2 separate regions of the Homo sapiens genome follow, and region 2 is linked to region 1. The links come from fine-mapping of genetic effects on gene expression. A gene starts in region 1. The other region holds a variant in brackets. All regions are shown on one strand. Distances are from middle to middle.

Region 1 (9,623 bases):
AGTAGAGATGGGGTTTCACAGTGTTAGCCAGGATGGTCTCGATCTCCTAACCTCGTGATCTGCCCAGCTCGGCCTCCCAAAGTGCTGGGATTACAGGCGTGAGCCACCGCGCCCAGCTAACATTTACTTTTTGTAGAGACGAGGTCTCCCTATGTTGTCCAGGCTGGTCTCAAACTCCTGAGCCCAAGTGATCCTCTTGCCTTAGCCTCCCAAAGTGCTGGGATTACAGGCATGAGCCACCTCACCTGGCCGTGGCAGCTAAGTTGAGTATTCACTCCCATTAACCACAAGTTCCAAAGTTAGTGCCTACTCTTTGCAGAAGACTGTGCTGGCTGCCAGGGATACAAAAGTATACATGGTCTCCACCATCAAGGAGTCCACAGGGTGGTAAATGCTATGACATCAGGAAGTTCAAAGTGACAGGGGAGCATGGGGAGAGTGAGTGTCTAAGCCAGACTTACCTTCAGCAAGATGACTGCACAGTCAGACAATAAATACAGTGAGCCTGCTCCAAGGGCGTGAGTTTGCAGACTGCCTTCCCACATATTGATTACCTGGCCTTTTCCTTCCCCAACCAGCCCATGGGACCCTGTAGCTGGACCTACTGTGCACACTCACCTGTTTCCACATCATTGGCATTGGCCGAGTCCCTCAGTCTCTTCAGAGCTGTAAAGAGAGTAACGGATGCCAGTTTAAAAAAACAGCCATGGCTGGGTGCGGTGGCTCATGCCTATAATCCCAGCACTCTGGGAGGCCAAGGCAGGCAGATCACAAGGTCAGGAGATCGAGACCATCCTGGCTAACATGGTGAAACCCCATCTCTACTAAAAATACAAAAAAATTAGCCGGGCGTGGTGGCAGGTGCCTGTAGTCCCAGCTACTCGGGAGGCTGAGGCGGGTGAATGGCGTGAACCTGGGAGGTGGAGCTTGCAGTGAGCAGAGATCGCGCCACTGCACTCCAGCCTGGGTGACAGAGTGAGACTCCGTCTCAAAACAAACAAACAAACAAACACACACAAAAAAAACACAGCCATTGGCTGGGCATGATGGCTCACGTCTGTAATCCCAGCACTTTGGGAGGCCGAGGCAGGTGGATCACTTGAGGCCAGGAGTTCAAAACCAGCCTGGACAACATGGTGAAACCCCATCTCTACTAAAAATACAAAAAAATTAGCCGGGTGTGGTGCACATGCCTGTAATCCCAGCTACTCTGGAGGCTGAGGTAGGAGAATCACTTGAACCCAGGACATGGAGGTTGCAGTAAGCCAAAATCGCGCCACTGCACTCCAGCCTGGGTGACAGAGTGAGACGCTGTCTCAGAAAAAAACAAAAACAACAAAAACCAACAAAAAAAACCCAGCCATCTAGCTGGGTGTGGTGGTGTGCACGTGTAACACCAGCTACTTAGGAGGCCGAGGTAGGAGAATGGGTTGAAGCCGGAAGGCGGAGGCTACAGTGAGATGAGATCACGCCACTGCATTCCAGCCTGGGCAACAAAGTGAGACTGTCTCAGGAAAAAAAAAAAAAAAAAAAGCCACAATGGCTGGGCGCAGTGGCTCATGCCTATAATCCCGGTACTTTGGGAGGCCAAGGCAGGTGGATCACTTGAGGCCAGGAGTTCAAGACCAGCCTGGCCAACATGCTGAAACCCCATCTCTACTAAAAATACAAAACTAGCCATACGTGGTGACTCACGCCTGTAATCCCAGAACGTTGGAAAGCTGAGGTGGGCAGATTGCCTGTGCTCTGGAGTTTGAAACCACCCTGGGCAACATGGTGAAACCTTGTCTATACTAAAATACAAAAAATTAGTTGGGCATGGGGGTGCACGCCTACAATCCCAGCTACTTGGGAGGCTCAGGCAGGAGAATCGCTTAAGCCCAGGAGGCAGAGGTTGCAGTGAGCCAAGACTGTGCCACTGTACTCCAGCTCGGGCAACAGAGTGAGACTCTGTCTCACACAAACACACACACACACACACACACACACAAAAAACATAGGCCGGGCACAGTGGCTCACGCCTGTAATCCCAACACTTTGAGAGGCCAAGGTGGGTGGATCACGAGGTCAGGAGTTTGAGACCAGCCTGGCCAATAAGGTGAAATCCCTTCTCTACTAAAAATACAAAAATTAGCCAGGCATGGTGGTGCATGCCTGTTATCCCAACTACTCAGGAGGCTAAGGCAGGAGAATCACTTGAACTTGAGAGCCGGAGGTTGCAGTGAGCCAAGATCGCGCCACTGCACTCCAGCCTGGGCAATAGAGCAAGACTCTGTCTCAAAATAAATAAATAAATAAATAAATAAATAAATAAATAAATAAATAAATAAAATAAAAACACAAAAATTAGCCGGGTGTGGTGGTGCATGCCTGTAATCCCAGCTACTTGGGAGGCTGAGACACGAGAATCACTTGAGCCCAAAATCACACCATGGCACTCCAGCCTGGGTGGCAGAGCAACACTCCATCTCAAAAAAAAAGAAAGAAAAAATATTTCTCAATCTTAGGTTAAGTTCTAACTTAAATCAATCTAACATGGTAAAACCCCATCTCTACTAAAAATACAAAAACTAGCTGGGTGTGGTGGTGCGGGCCTGTAGTCCCAGCTACTTGGGAGGCTGAGGCAGTGAGCCGAGATTGCACCACCTGCACTGCAGCCTGGGTGGTAAAGCGAGACTCTCGTCTCAAAAAAAGAAAAGAAAGACAGTGCCCTGGGAACAAGGAGAAACTTGAAATGAGGCGGAGCTAGTACAAAGGCCACATCCTCCTGCAAATCCTCCAAGACTTTTGGAGCCAGATTTCCTCTCTATCACTTGTAGTCACAGGGTGACCTTGAGCAAGCTAGTTAACCCAGCTGGGCCTCAGGTCTATCATCTGCAAAACAAGGCTGAGTTGTTCTGCCAGCCCCGAGTTATTGCAAATGATTTACACAGAAGCTCTTTGTGAGCTGGTTACACAGATAATCTTATATTCTCCTTCAAAGCAGGTCGTTCCCAAATGATTTGCCTAAATTTGGTATTTCCTAAGCAGATTTTCCCCCTCCAATGGCTAATGGAAAGCAATGTCTTTGTCATCGGAGATATGGTCAAAAATTGCAATTCAGATACATGACAATTCCTTGCTTTCATACAGCACTTTATGGTCAATACAACGCTTCCAAATTCTTATTTCATCTTCGTGACATCACTAAAATATGGCTAGAGTCATAGCCAGTCCTGGAAGAAATCCCCAAAGTCCCCATTCTTAATCTCTCAGTGCCTGGGTTTCCATGTCACCCATGCATTGTAGAAGACAATATGGTAGATATACCAGAGGAGAAGTTTGAGTCGGGCTGACCCGGATTCTAATACCAGCAACAGCCACTTGCTATGTGACCTGGAATAAGACAATTTCTCTGAGCCTCAGTTTCCTCTTCAGTAAAGTGGGAACAATTTCTATGTCTCAAAGAGTTCTTGTGAGGACAGATGATCATGTATCAGCAGTGTTTGGGGCACAGCAAAGGCAGCATAACAGCTAAACATCCATTACCTTACTTAACTCATCCCATTTTACAGATGAGAAAACTAGGGCTGAGGCCGGGCCAGTGGCTCATGCCTGTTATGCCAGTACTTTGGGAGGCCGAGGTGGGTGGATCACCTGAGATCAGAAGTTCGAGACCAGCCTGGCAAACATGGTGAAACCCCATCTTTACTAAAATTACAATAATTAGCCGGGCTTGGTAGTGGGCGCCTGTAACCCCAGCTACTCGGGAGGCTGAGGCAGGAGAATCGCTTGAACCCGGGGGGCGGAGGTTGCAGTGAACCAAGATGGCGCCACTGCACTCCAGCCTGGGCAACAGAGCGAGACTCCGTCTCCAAAAAGATAATAATAATAAATAAATAAAAATAAAAAAATTTAAAAAGAAAACTAAGGTTGAAAGGGTCTATCATTTGCCCTAAGGTCTAACTGTGGTAAAGGAGTCCAAGTCCGTGCATTTAAACAAGCTGGTACGACTTGGCTGCAGGCTCTGGCCTCCCCTCTCCATGATAATAAAAGTGTTCCCCAGTACCTCATTTTATTATTCACCAATAAGCGTTCCGAGTCATGGGAAGTTTCCATTCAGAAATTACCCAGTGAGAGAAGACTGGGGTGACTGGCTCAGAGCAGGAAGACTTTCTAAAAAAACCATCATCACCATCGTTACTGAAAGGAGACTCAAGGGTCAGTGTGGCCCTCAGCGCAGACGTCGGGGGACCCCGGCTGAGGGTCGGGGGCGACCAAAGCGCGGCCACTGGTCCTCTGAGGCCCCGCCCCTCGCCCGGGCTGCCCCGCCCCGGGCCCCCGCGCCGCTCGCGCCGCTCACCGTGCACCTCCTTGCCCGTGGGCCCGAGCCGCCGGTGGGGCCTGGCAGCGCGCCTCAGCCGGCCAGCGGGTATCTTGCAGCGCAGCTCGTCGCGCGGCTCCGCATCCTGCTGCCACAGGACGTGCAAGTAGCGCAGCGGCGACTGGGCCCCGCCGGACGCCCGGCCCGAGAGGCCCGCGCCGCCGCCGCCCAGCGCAGACCCGAAGTCAGCGAAGGAGAAGAGGCCCTCAGCGTCAGTCAGCGGCTCCGGCGCCACCGCGCACTCGCCCTCCGAGCTCGAGTGGCCTGAGCGCGGCTCGTCGTCCGCGTCCCCGGCGGCGGCTGCCATGGCAACGGCTCCGCGCGGGCCTGGCCGCCTGAGCCTCGTTCCCGACCGACCAACGGACCTACTTCCCTCCGCCCTGAGTCGTGCTGTCAGCGAGCTGGCGGGCGGGCAGGGCCCGCAACCACGGCAACCGAGCGGGGGCGGGCTCAGGCCGAGACAGAGCGGCGAACCAATGACTACCCTTCCAGCTTAAACCGGTCCCAAAACCAATCGGAAAGGGAGGGCACAGTACAAGCAGGATAATTGGACAGGGTTTCCGGCAACGTGACTGACAGACATTGTAACCAATTACAAACTTGAAGTGACCTTGGCTTTCGCTGTACGTCGCTACCGGAGCCAGTAAAACAGCATTTCAGACGCTTTTTTTTTGCGACGGAGTCTCGCTCTGCCGCCAGGCTCGCGATCTCGGCTCACTGCAACCTCCGCCTCCTTGAAGCAATTCTCCTGCCTCAGCCTCCCGAGTAGCTGGGACTACAGGCGCGCGCCACCACGCCCAGCTAATTTTTGTATTTTTAGTAGAGACGGGGTTTCACCATGTTGGCCAGGATGGTCTCGATCTCTTGATCTCGAGATGTGCCGGCCTCGGCCTCCCAAAGTGCTGGGATTACAGGCGTGAGCCACCGCGCCCGGCCTTTTTTTTTCTTTTTCCTCTCCATTTCCCAGTCTAATGAGAAAACAAGCAGATACCTTAGCAAATCAGATTAAGATGATTTGCAGGCACTCACAAAGGAAAATGAAGAAGCCACGCCATCCATGTAGATATAGATGTTGTAAATCAATGAACGCAAAAAAAAAAAAAAAAAAGAACTTCCCACAAATGCATAATGTACGTGGGAAAGGGAAAATGTGTTGAAATTTGGAGATACCACTACAAACTGTGAGTAATAGTGTCTAAATGCAATGGATTTCCTTTAGTCAGAGTTCTCTAGGTAACCCCGACGTAGATGACTGATCTACAAAGATTTGTAATACAAAGTGATTACATTAGAGCAATAGTTTAGTTCGACAGCCAGTCACTGAGCCAGGTAACTGCTAGGTCCTGGACACAGGATCAGACTTGGTGCCCCTGAGATGCTCACAATCCAATGGGAGAAGACCAGGAAACAAATAAGTGTTCCTCAAGCAACATTTCATGGGTGCACGTTTTCATAAAACTTCTCACAATCCCGTACCCCACAAGCACTTCTATAAAGTAGACAAGAAGGACCATCCCTATTTTATAGGTGAGGAGTTGAAAAGCAGAGGGAAGAGACTCATTCACAGTTGCCCAGCTCTCACCGGACCAGGTCTTGTGTCCTGGCAAAAGTTCTTTCCATATATAAACCCTCCCACTCAACCCAGTTAAAATGTAATCTTTCCGCACGGTGGGTCACGCCTGTAATCCCAGCACTTTGGGAGGCCAAAATGGGCAGATGACAAGGTCGGGAGTTCAAGACAAGCCTGGCCAACATGATGAAACCTCGTTTCTACTAAAAATACAAAAATTAGCTGGGTGTGGTGGCGCACGCCTGTAATCCCAGCTATTCAGGACACTGAGGCAGGAGAGTAGCTTGAACCTGGGAGGCAGAGGTTGCGGTGAGCTGAGATCGCACCATGGCACTCCAGCCTGGGTGACAGAGCGAGACTCCATCTCAGAAAGAAACAAAAACAAAAAAAAGGCCTGGCGCTGTGGCTCACGCCTGTAATCCCAGCATTTTGGGAGGCTGAGGCAGGCAGATCACGAGGTCAGGAGATTGAGACCATTCTGGCTAACATGGTGAAACCCCGTCTCTACTAAAAATACAAAAAAATTAGCCTGGTGTGGTGGTGGGCACCTTTAGTCCCAGCTACTCAGGAGGCTGAGGCAGGAGAATGGCGTGAACCCAGGAGGCAGAGCTTGCGGTGAGCCGAGATCGCACCACTGCACTCCAGTCTGGGCGACAGAGAAAGACTCCATCTCAAAAAGAAAAAAAAAAGTAATCTTTCTCTTACAATTGGAAAAGCACTTCCAGAATTTTCAGTGTTTGCAGTCGCCATTGTGAGGTTTATCATTGTACTATATGGAAAAAAATGCTATGTTTATTTGTACTCTCCTCGTCTGCCCCATAATGGATACAGTGCTGAGACAGGATCTCTCACTGTCACTCAGGCTGGAGTGCAGTGGTGTGATCACAGCTCACTGCACTCAAGCTTTCCTCCCACCTCAGCCTCCTGAGTAGCTGGGGCCACAGATGTGTACCACCGTGCCTGGCTAATTATTTTTTTGATTTTTTGTAGACATGGTCTCACTTTTTTGTTCAGGCTGGTCTTGAACTCCTCGCCTCAAGGGATCCTCCTGCCTCCACATCCCAAAATGCTGAGATTACAGGAGTGAGCCACAGTGCCTGGGCCCCAATTTTTTTTTAAGATGGGGTCTCACTATATTGCCCAGGCTGATCTTGAGCTCCTGAGCTCAAGTGATCCTCCCACCTTGGCCTCCCAAAGTGCTGGCATGAGCCACCACATCCAGCCCCATGAAAATCTTCTGACTTCACAACTCCTTCTCAAATGTCATGAACATTTTGAGAATTGTTGTCAAATTGGAGCAACCTGTATCAAATTCCTGTCATATATGGACTATAAGATTTCAGGTAATTTCTTTTCTTTTTTTTTTTTTTGAGACGGAGTCTCGCTCTGTCGCCCAGGCTGGAGTGCAGTGGCAGGATCTCGGCTCACTGCAAGCTCCGCCTCCCGGGTTCACGCCATTCTCCTGCCTCAGCCTCCCAAGTAGCTGGGACTACAGGCGCCCGCCACTACGCCCGGCTAATTTTTTGTATTTTTAGTAGAGACGGGGTTTCACCATTTTAGCCGGGATGGTCTCGATCTCCTGACCTCATGATCCACCCGCCTCGGCCTCCCAAAGTGCTGGGATTACAGGCGTGAGCCACCGCGCCCGGCCAATTTCTTTTCTTTTTTCTTTTTTTTTTTGAGGCAGTTTTGCTCTTGTTGCCCAGGCTGGAGTGCAGTGGTGCAATCTTGGCTCACCACAACCTCCGCCTCCTAGGTTCAAGTGATTCTCCTGCCTCAGCCTCCCGAGTAGCTGGGACTACAGGCATATGCCACCATGCCCGGCTAATTTTATATTTTTAGTAGAGACGGGGTTTCACTATGTTGGCCAGGCTGGTCTCGAACTCCTGACCTCAGGTGATCCATCTGCCTTGGCCTCCCAAAGTGCTGGGATTACAGGTGTGAACCACTGTGCCAGGCCTCGGAGAAGGGTTATTATTTAAACTAGAAACTAAATGTCTCCCAAAGTTAGCTCGGTTCGAGCCAGGAATGATTAAGGGCAGTCTGAAGATTAAATGGAAGATGAGGGTTGGTTAGATCAGATCTCTTTCACTGTCATTATTTTCTCACTGTTACAATTTTTGCAAAGGTGGTTTCAGCAATAAAAATATTTCACAAATTTTACAAAAGCAAAGGACCATGAGGACATTGTTGGGGACCCTCCCTGAACCAAGGAAGAGACTGTGACTCTTCCTTGGTTCAGGGAAGGTCCTGAACCAAATCGAGGGTCGGTAAAGCTTAAGCTCCATTATTTCCAAATTTGTGTCACCTCTGGTGACAGCACAAGGAAGAAACACAAAACAAGAACGCAGCATAGGGAGTTGGGGCTGGGCATTGCAATTCTCAATAGGATGTTGAGTGGATGGCATCAGAGCAGACACCTGAAGGTGCCATGCAGATACCGATGGGGAAGGGAATGGGAGTGGGGGTGCCACTGCATTCGATTCTAGACTTGGATAACAGTGAGTGCAAAATCCCAGAGGTGGAGCGTGCCTCAGTGGGAAAAGCAAGGAGGGCGGCGTGACAAAGGGACCCAGAGAGTCCTGGTCACACAGCAAATCAGTGGCGGAGTAGGGACTGGAACTCGGATTTCCACTAGGTGTTGTGTATGGGCAGATGGCTAAACTAAGGCCTCTCCTTGACTCATACACCGGTTTTTATTGGTTTGCTTTATAACCCCATCTCTACCTTGAGGGTTTCCCCTGGCCTCGAACCCGGTGTACTCAAGAGCTGCCCATGTCCCAGGCTTCGCGACACAGCTGGCCTCATCTTTGCCTGCTCCAACTTTAATGTCCAAAGTTGGGTGGCTCCTGTTCTCCATTCCCTCTTACTGCATGGGACCAAATCTCAATTTTTTTTTTTCTTTTTTTTTTTAGACGGAGTCTTGCTCTGTCGCCCAGGCTGGAGTGCAGTGGCGCGATCTCGGCTCACTACAGCCTCTGCCTCTCAGGTTCCACCGATTCTCCTGCTTCAGCCTCCTGAGTAGCTGGGATTACAGGCGGACGCTACCACTCCCGGCTAATTTTTGTATTTTTAATAGAGACGGGGTTTCGCCATTTCGGCCAGGCTGGTCTCGAACTCCTGATCTCAGATCATCCACCCGCCTCGGCCTCCCAAAGTGTAGGGATTACAGGCGTGAGCCATCGCGCCCGGCCAAATCTCAATTTTTATCCCCAGTAAGTTTAGTCTTGTGAAGTCCGAACGTTTGAATAATTTACTCGCTGCAGGCAAACCGCCTACAACTAAATCCATCAGGCCCCCGTATCCGAATCTTCCTTCACGCGAGAAGCCGGCCATCTTTTGTGTAGCATTCTTTCTGGTTCCTCTAACTTTGCCTCTCCTTTACGCCAAATACGTGTCCTTATATCTGAATCTACACCACTATTATAGATTCACCTTCTTTGAGAAGTCCCTATTTGAAGAGAGGAAAATTCAGGCTACTTGTAACCCTCTTATTCTTTTTAGACGGAGTTTTCCCTCTTGTTGCCCAGGCTAGAGTGCAATGGCGCGATCTCGGCTCACCGCAACCTCCGCCTCCCGGGTTCAAGCGACTCTCCTGCCTCAGCCTCCCGAGTAGCTGGAATTACAGGCATGCGCCACCACTCCCGGCTAATTTTGTATTTTTAGTAGAGACGGGGTTTCTCCATATTG
Region 2 (9,623 bases), 700 kb before region 1:
CCCTTGCCTCCGCAGGCTCAGAGCTGTCTGTTCCCACTGCTTGGCCTCTCCCCTGCTTCTGGCACCCGATCTGATCCTGGAGGCACAGTCGGGGCTACGCACTCTGTGGATCCAGTGTGAGTCGGGGACAAGCGGGACCCCTGCCCCTTCCGAGGTAGCCAGGAGCTCTCCTGGGGCAGCTGCAGCTGCCCAAGCCAGGACCCAGGCATCTCTACTGCCCCCACAAGCTCAGGGGTGTCTGCTCCCACTGTCTGGCCTCCTCCTGCTCCAGTGCCCACTCCAATCTCAGAGCGGGACCAAGCCCAGGCACTACCACAGCCTGGCACGCTCGAGGCAGCACTGACTCACTGGCCCCAGCTGCCTCGGCCCCCTCTGGACTTTAGGCACCAATGAGCACAGGGGGATGGGAAGCCACGGGGGTGCAGGGGACAGCTTGGCACTGGCCTGCAGGTGCCCCTTGGCCCGAGCAGCCTGGGCAGAAGGAGGCGGGTCCCTGGTGAGGTCCCACCTTCAGGCTGGGGAGGGCCTGAAAAACAAGGCCCTTGTTGGGCCTTGACCCAACAAGGTAGGTGCCATTATTATGCCCATTTTACAGAAGGGGAGACTGGGGCACAGGGGTTGCCCAATGTCACCCAGCTGGTGAGCCAGGGCTGGAGCATCCAGCTCCAGAGTCTACACCCTTCACCCCCCACACTGCACTGCACTGCCAAGCCCCCGGGAAGAGCTGGGTGTGGTCATTACAGTTACTGGAGTGCTGTCTTACTTGATAAGGAACACAAGTGTCACAGGACCCACAAAGCGCAGGGGAGACAGCAGGAGCAGAGGCAGAATGGCAGATGCCTCACATACAGAGGGTCCGTCGGCCCTGGGGCAGGCCTGAGTCCACTCCCTGGGGTGTCACCTGTTTTTCTCTGCCTCTTGCTCAGCGCTGGGCATCCTGCTTAGCCACAGCCCCAGCCATTGGGCCTCAGCTCTTCCCCTGGCATCCGGCCCACCCTGAGATCGCAGCCCGGAGCTGGGAGACCACCCTCTCCCTGCACTCTCTCCCTGGGTGGGCTACTCACATCTGGGGCTCCGAGGATCAGGTTGCAGGCCCAGGATGCTTGACTCACGGGGAGCAGCTCACAGGTTTGGTTCCACCGCCTTTCATGGCAAAAGACCCTCTTTAGAAGAACAGGAAGGACCCACACAGCTGGCCCAAGGGACTCTTCTCAGATCTCTCTGCTGCCAGGATGGCACCAGGCAGCAAGGCCAGGCTGGGGCCCCTGTGCCAACCACTGTGAGGGGCACTGCCTCCCCCACTGGCTCCATGGCATTCCTCCCTCATGGGCACCTTGTCCTGCTCCCTCATCCCAGCCTGGTCCCACGGCAGCTGGAGTGATCTAGAAACACAAACCACTTCAAGACAGGCAGTCCTCCCCACCTAGAGCCCTCCAAAGCTCCATGAGGCTTAGGATGAAGATAGATCCTTAATTAGGCCTTCAGAGCCGTGTGGAATCACCACCCACCCAGAAGCCAGGGCCCGAACCTGCCTTACCCCTCCATCTCCCTCCCCATTTTCCCCCACCCCACACCCTATGGAATCCACCTGGGCCCAGCCACCTCTCTGTGGTCTTCCTCTTCTCCCTGACCCCATCAAGCCTACCTGGGGTCAGTCCCTCACTCACTGGCCGCCTGGATGTTTACATCACAGTGACATCTCTCTCCCATCCACCAGGCACCCAAACCACTCCCAGGTTCCCTGTCCCCACAGCTGCCTACAGGGTCTCTCAAAATCCGAGCTTATCCAAAAAGCTTGGGGACCCTCCTTTCTCCCCACTTCCTCTCTGCTTGCCTCTAGAGTGGAGTCCAGCCTTGGCATAGCAGGCTTGCAGCTCAGTGTCCCCAAACTACCCTGTCCAGTTCATCCCCAGCCCCTCCACTGCAGCCTGGACTCCACCCAGGTTCTAGAAGTCTAAATAGCTGACTCCCAAATTCTCTTAAACGATCCCTTGATTCCAGGCCTGGGCCCCAACTCCTGTGATTCAAAAAGTCTGTGGGTCCCATTAGTCCAAGATTCTGTAAACGTTGACTCCTTGGAGTCCAGTGCATAGGATCCAGAATATGAGATCCCACCATCCTAAGATTCTGCAGTGTGGCCAGTGGACTCACCGTCTGTCCGGCCAGGCATGGACTTGGCAGGAAGTGTCCTGCAGAGCCCCATCTTGGCTCCAGACACAGGAGATGTTGGCTCTCGAGTTGTAGAAGCATGTGAACTGGGAAGTGCCTGCCGGGCAAGATGAGGTGTGAGTGCTGACTGTAGGTGCCCACAGCCCCCCCAAGACACGCCCACTGCCCCTGCACCTGGCACCCACACCTGCCAGAGGAGGAGGTGGGTAACTCTGGCAAGCGGAGAAGGGATTCATGGACCCACTTCAGAGAGGAGGAAATGGAGCTCCAGAGCCTGCAAGTTCCTACAGGCAAACTAAGGCAAGGCAGGGACAGAAAGTAGCACAAGCCTGTGGCTTGGAGAGGCGTGTGTGTGTGTGTGTGTGTGTGTGTGTGTGTGTGCGCGCATTCATGCATGCATGCCAGGGCAGGGGTCCAGGACAGAGGGTGAGGCAGGAGGTGGACACCTGGTCTCTGGCCCCATCCCCTTCTGGGAAGAGGCTTTAGCAGGGCCTTAGCCATCTCTCCATAGGGAAAGCAGAGCTGTTCAGATGTCAGGGTCCTCACCATTCACCGCTGCAGATGCCCAAGAGGTAGCCAGGGGCAGGAGGAGGATGAGGAGGGGCAGACGCCAGGACAGAGCAGGGGCCGCCATTACATCCACAGGGTGGAGCCGAGGAAGGAAGCCCTGGTGGGAGAGGAGAAAGAGAGAGCACACGTAAATACACATCCCAGGCCTCGCTGCCCCTAGAGGCAGGCTGGGCCCGCCCCCTCAGTGTGCATGGTCTGCACTCCTCGGTGCCAGCTCAGTCCAGCCCCAGGGCCTTTGCACCTGCTAATCCCACCACCCTACACATGCTCACACCCTTCCTTCAAGTTTCTGCTCAACTGCAGCCTCCTTTGAGAGGTCTTCTTTGACTAGACTACATAAAGAAGCACCCGTCGTGGCCAGGCGTGTGGCTCATGCCTGTAATCCCAGCACTTTGGGAGGTCGAGGCAGACGAATCACCTGAGGTCAAGAGTTTGAGACCAGCCTGACCAACATGGTGAAACCCTGTCTCTACTAAAAATACAAAAATTAGCCGGGCAAGGTGGTGGGTGCCTGTAGTCCCAGCTACTCGGGAGTCTAAGACAGGAGAATTGCTTGAACCTGGAGGCGGAGTTTGCAGTGAACCGAGATGGCACCACTGCACTCCAGCCTGGACGACAGA[G/A]TAAGACTCTGTCTCAAAGAAAAAAATAAAAGAAGCACCCTTTGTTACTCACCACCCCCCTACATTTTCATCATAGCATTATTTATTCATCGTTTATTGACTGATTCATGTTTTCCTCTATCTCTCTTCACAAACACACACAGAGTCACGTAAGCTCACTAAGGACAGGTATTTTTGTGTTTTGTTCATTGCTAGGTCCACAATTCCTAGAACAGTGCCTGGCACATAGTAGGCATCTGGCCAAAAAAAATTCTTGAACAAACAAGTGATGGAATAAATATAGACAGAGCTAAAGTCAGCAGGTAGAGGGGCTTCCAGAGGGCTCTGAGGCTAGCCCCTGCCTCTGCCCCTCACTGTCCCTCGAGGGAGCTGAGGCAATGGTGTGAAGGCATCAGGACGCGAACTCGGAAAAGCAGAAAAGCAGATAGGAGCTCTGACCCAAACACTGAAGAGCCCTAGAGGACAGGGGAAACTGAGGCACAGAGGGCTGCAGTAGCCTTTACGGAGGACCTTGTCCACACTCGTACTCCCCTACCTGCCTGGAAGCTCCCTGGAGGCAGGGCCAGGTTGGTCACCCAGATTATACCCCAGGGAGGAAAGAGACATGAAATCTCTAAGCCAGCCCTGTCAGAGGGAGGCTCAAAAGTTTTCCCGGAGTGCCTATTATGCACTGGCCACTGGCCAGTGCTTTATTTATTTACTTTTTTTTTTTGAGACAAAGACTTGCTTCTCAGGGAACCTCTAGCCAACCGTGGAAGCTCCCGTGAGGCAAGACCACAACTGTCGCAGCGGAAATGGGAAAGAAAAGTAGCTGCCCCCACCCTCTGCAGGGGCTGGGTGTGCGGAGGGGAATGAGAAAGTGAGCACATGGTCACTTCGGGAAGATAAGGGGACTGCTTCCAGGAGAGGTGTTTGGAGCAGGCAAAGGGGGAGGCAGGGAGATGAGGAGGGAGCTTCCAGGGAAAGATGAGGGTAGCCTCAGTCAGAGGGGCAGGGGGAGAGGGGAGAGGAGCAGGTGAGTCAAGAGATGTGGAGGAGGTGGAACATCCTTCCCTCCCTCCTGCTCTTCCATCTCGAGAGCTTCCAAGGCTCCTGAGCGTTGGGCATTTCCCCCGCTGTTCCCCCTTCTCCAGCGGCTCCAAACTCGAGCTCTCACTCCCCTTCCCTTCTCTCTCTTGAGCCTCTCACTGGCTCCAGCCCTCAGCTTCCCAGGGTCTTTCTCCAGCTCAGCCCCAAGCCTCCACGTCCCTCCCGATGGTCTGCAGGACCCCCTCACAGGGGATGCTCCTGGACCCGGCAAAAACCCAGCTCATCCCCAGCTCTTCTCCTGTCTGACTTTCAGTTCTGGGACAACTGTACCCTTCCTATTCCAGGTGACCTTTGCCCCCATACCTAGCCAGTCAGGACTCTCCTCAGACAGCAGGACACTCCAGTGACTACTTGTTGTCTCTTCCCCACCCTCACCAGGCCAGCCTCGTGCCGTTCCAGCCCAGACAACGGCACCACCCCATCTGCAGGCTCTCACCTGCCTTCCCTGAAGCCCGCCTCCAACCACCCACATCCCTGCCCAGGAACCTGCAGTGGCCCTGTTGCAATCAAAGCCTAAATTCCCATTTTCGAGGCTTTCTGGGACCGGAATGAGGTCAGCCCACCCTTCCAGACCCTGCCCTCACAGGAGCAGGTGCATGTACCCAGGCCAAAGCACACACACACCGCACCTACCTGCCTGCACAAGCCAGTGGCTCCAGGTGACCAGGAAACCGACACTCACCCTCCAAAGGTCCTTCCCAAGTCTATCCTTTCCCTGGGTCCCCTACAGATCCTGCCATCCTTCAAGCCCATTTCAAACGGGCCCTCATGCCTTTTTCCATGAAGCCTTCCCTGATTTCCGTGATGGAGGGCGAGGGCTTCCTCTTCTGAGCGCCTTGCTCCTCCCTCTAGGCTGGCAGCAGCAGGGCCGGCGTTGACCAGGGGCTGGCCCACCAGCACACTCGCTCCAGGGACTGCTGAGCACAGGGCCGGGCACACAGTCGGTGCTCAATAAATGTAGTGAAATGAATGAGTGTGGTCAGAGGCCTCAGTACGGCAAAAAAAAAAAAGCAGAGCTCTTTAGGTGGCCCTGGATTGTCTCGTGGCTTACATCAGAGCCAGCATGGAGCAGGGACACACACCCTGGCCCCAAGAGCCATGGGTTCCATCTCCTAAGGCAGATGTCACAGGAGTGAGAGTCAGAGGCCCACGCACTGTCAAAGCTGCAAAGGCTCTCTGAGCAAGCACAGTCCCTTGTTCTACATTTGAGAACACTGAGGTCCCGAAGTGGGAAAGACTTGCTGAAGGTTACATCAGGAGCCCAGCACAGAGCTGGGATCAGAACCCAACTCCACGCCGCTCTGCCACCCCCTTAGTCACACCAAAACCATCGGCTGACAGGTTACTGTAAGCCAGGCTCCATTTAAAACTCTTTAAATGCAGCAATCAGGGCCTCTGGCGGGGATACTCTTATTATCCCCATTTTCCAATGAGGAAACGGAGGCACACAGAGGTGAAGTGCGTTGCCTAAGGTCATGCAGTGGATAAGAGGCCTTTCTGGAATCTGAGTCAGGGCAGACTGCCCAGTGCCCAGGCAGGGATCCTCCCCTCCTGGAACTCCCCAGACGCATCTTCCCACCACGACAGCTCACACGACAGTAAATATGCACTGGTGAACTAATAATACTCGTTCTGTGTACTGAGCACATACTCTATGCTAGGCCTGGGGCCAAGTGCCTCACATATGCCAGCTCGTCTAAGCTGCCCAATGGCTTTATTATCCCATTCTACAGATGAGGAAACTAAGGCTCCAAGCCCCTAACTTGCCCAGGGTCATAAACACAGTAAGAGGTGGAGCTAGGGCTCCAGGCTCACTCTCTCATGCTGTCCCACCCTGCCAGACACTGGTCCCAGAGGTAAGGCTGCCACCCTCTCTGTCCTGGGAGTCAGGACCCAGCAGCTCACAGACAGACTGGCAGGTGCTTATTCGGGGTACCATGGGCTCGCCTTTGCCTGGCCTACCGTCTCCACAGGAGGGTGAGCTCCCCAGGGTGGGGGCTGCTCACCTCTTTCTTGGGATCCCCCAATAGCAGAGGGCACAGGGTTGGGACCCCAAAGAGTGCATAGCCCAACCAGGGGACTCCCATAGCCCCTATGCCCCTTCACGCTCAATCATGCCAACCTGGCCCTGGGGCAAGGGGACCATCAATGTTTTGTGTGGGTGTCACCCCAGGTCGGGCCCAGCCTCAGGATGACCCCATGCCCAGGACAGGAACTGCAGAGAGCCCCAGTGTGTGAGGAAGGTGCTGAGGGACAAAGGGGTGCAAGGTCAAAGGAAGGTTAGGGGTAAACCACAGGCCCAGCCTAGAGGCAGCCGGGCAGGAGGAGAAAGCGCCATCTGGAGTCTGCTTCCCGCCGCCTGGAGCTCAGAGGTGCAGCGATGCTCGGAGAGGGCAGAGTCCACGGGAGGATGGTGTGGGGGTGCCAGAGGGGCACAGAGCTGAGGGAGCGCCTGGCAGTCACTGAGGCTGCACCCTCATTCTGCAATGGGGAAGCTGTGCCTCAGGGAGGCCAAGGAACCCACTTAAGGTTGCACGGTGAGGAGAAGCCCAGCCTCGGGTGACAGCAAGTGGAGCCCAGGACCTCGAGTTTGAGCACCCCCTCCTGGGTCCTCAGGCACACCCACACGTGCCCTGTCGTTCATGACTCTGAAACTGGTCACACCCACGGATGCCTACGTCCCCACCACAGCCCTGCAAGGTGGGTCTTGCTGCCCCATTTGATCCATGCCAGAACTGAAGCCCGGAGCGGCTGACCCCAGCCATCTGATTTTCAGAGAGATGCTGCTGGGGACAGGGACTGGTGCCTGCTCTCTCTCTGCCTACACTGCCTGCCCTGAGCGCTCGGGGGTAGTTCAGCTTTTAGCCCTCCCTACAGCCCCATGAGGAGGCTCTAGTATGCCTCCTTTTTGCCAAATGAGGAGACTAAGAAACGGGTCAACCTCTCACCCAGGCGAGAAGGGCATAGAGCTGGGATTTGAACCTGGTCAGGTGCAGTTCGGGGCCCCTGCTGCCATCAGGGGTATATGGTGGCTGGGGCAGGGTGGTAAAGCAGGAGCTCGGGAGCCCATGGTTCATCCAACTTGACCTCTGAACTCAATGGGGCCTATGTCCCCTCGTCCTCTCTGGCCACCTCCACCTGCCACCCCCCTGCTCCCATACACAGTGCTTGTCTCTTGCTATTTAACTTCAGGGGCTTCTCCAGCTGGGTGCGGGACCCTGGCTGTGGGGGAAGGAAGGGGACCCTTGGGGATAGCTCAGCTCCTCACTCCACCTCCCTCCCCCGAGGTGCTACAAACACAGTTAAGAGTGGGAGGCTTCGGCCCCCAGGAGAGGAGAGAGCATGAGCTCCAGGCAGCCCCAAAGATAGGGTCCCATCCCCAATGTCCGGAGATGCTTCTGACCTGTCCAGTCATGCAGCCAAGGGAGGGACAAACCCAGACTCAAACCCAGGGCTCTGCCTCCAGCCTGGGGCTCCCAGAGGCCTCGCAGCAACTTCACTTCATAGATGGCTCTCCAAGGGGACCCTTCTGTCCCCACTTACTCCACAAGCCTCCTGATGAGCACGCAACACAGGGCTGCCTCCCCCGGTATATGGGCCCCACTCCACAGAGGTCAGGAGGGGGCTCCCGCCTGTCCCACCCCATATCCCGTACCCTCTCCGGGCACCCAGGCTATCCACCCATCCCTTCTCCACCTCTCCGGGTTGGGGGCCCAGCACACAGAGCCCAGGGAAGCCCCTCATCCCACAGCAGTCCCTAGCCTCCCCTGAATGGGTTGGGAAGGAGAGCTGACCTGGGACTGGGGACCGCTTTTTCCTCCAGCCAGGAGCCATGAGAGCTGGGCCCAACCCCTCCCTAGGGGAATTCTAAGACAAAGTTGGGGGATGGGAGTTCAGGCAGAAACTGCTGGGGGAACTGAGTCAGAGCTGAAAGTCTTCTCTGTGACTTTCACTCCCAGCCCTCTGGCTGGTCCACAGGGGCCGGGAGGGAGGCAGGGGGACATCACCTGGCTGAGACATGGGGCGGTGGCAGCGCGCGCTCTCCAGTCCTCCCCGGTGCTGGGACCGTGGCCATCTCTCCAGGGCCCTGCTGAGCTCTGGCTGCTGGGGCCGCAAAGACTAAAAGCCCAGAGCCAGCCCACTTCCTGTGCAGAGGATAGAGGGGCAAGGCCTGGGGTGGAGAGGCGGGGAGACGAGGCTTATGAGAAAGCCTGAAACTCCTCAAGCACCCAGGGCCAGATAAAGATCTGCCTCCTACGCTGGGGGCGGCACACACACACACACACACACACACACACACACACACACACACAGACACACATTGTCAAATAGGGGCCTAGCTGCACACAGGAGCCAAGGGAACGCAGGCCCTCCCTCTCTCCCCTCCTACATCACCCCCACGCCAACTCACACAGGCTACCCAACACCTCTGACGCCTCCATCCGGTCACACACATACCCACTAATACGTAGGCTTCACACAAGCAGGTCCCTCTAGGTGACCCCAGCGTCTCACCCTCCTCCCAGCCTGCAACACACCATCTTTCCGAGACTCCCATTTCACCCAGCCTTCCAGGAAGCCCCTTACTCCGTTTAGCATTCAGAGATGACTGTTTTTTTTAGTTTTTAATTTTGTGGGCATGTGGTAGGTGTCTATATTCATGAGGCACATGAGCTATTTTGATACAGGCATACAATGTATAATAATCACATCAGGGTAAATGGGGTATCCATCACCTCAAGTATTTATCCTTTCTTTGTGTTAAAATCCAAGTATACTCTTTTAGTTATTTTTAAATGTACAATAAATTATTGTTGACTAAAGTCACCCTGTTATGCTATCAAATACTAGATCTTATTCATTCGATCTAATTCTGTTTTCGTACCCAACAACAATCCCCACCCCTCCAACCCCCACTGCCCTTCCCATCTCCATCACTGCCCTTCCCATTTCCATGAATTCAATTGTTTTAATTTTTAGCTCCCACAAATAAGTGAGAACATGTGAGCTTTGTCTTTTTGTGCCTGGCCTGTTTCACTTAACATAATGACCTCCAGTTTCAAACATGTGGTTGCAAAGACAGGATCTCATTCTTTTTCATGGCTGAATAGTACTCCATTGCATATATGTACCACATTTTCTTTATTCATTCATCTGTTGATGGGCACTTAGGTT

What was found.
Region 2: its variant is fine-mapped to the expression of ANKRD54 in esophagus muscle (GTEx, PIP 0.98).

The regions. Positions count from the first base shown.
Region 1 is chr22:37,839,569-37,849,191 of GRCh38, forward strand. ANKRD54 (ankyrin repeat domain 54) reads right to left here and starts at 4,766. Exons shown (of 8, transcript NM_138797.4): 1 at 4,343-4,766; 2 at 619-666. The coding sequence starts at 4,670. It overlaps MIR658 (microRNA 658), which reads right to left and starts at 4,803; the gene lies at 4,704-4,803. MIR659 (microRNA 659) reads right to left here and starts at 8,206; the gene lies at 8,110-8,206. RefSeq lists a silencer at 4,237-4,936 and enhancers at 8,970-9,492, 9,493-9,623.
Region 2 is chr22:37,141,370-37,150,992 of GRCh38, forward strand. It overlaps IL2RB (interleukin 2 receptor subunit beta), which reads right to left and starts at 8,547. Exons shown (of 10, transcript NM_000878.5): 1 at 8,456-8,547; 2 at 2,716-2,836; 3 at 2,152-2,266; 4 at 1,065-1,143. The coding sequence starts at 2,803. RefSeq lists enhancers at 6,834-6,883, 8,587-8,609, 8,692-8,723, 8,806-8,917 and a promoter at 8,457-9,412. The variant G/A (reference allele first, on the strand shown) is at 3,360.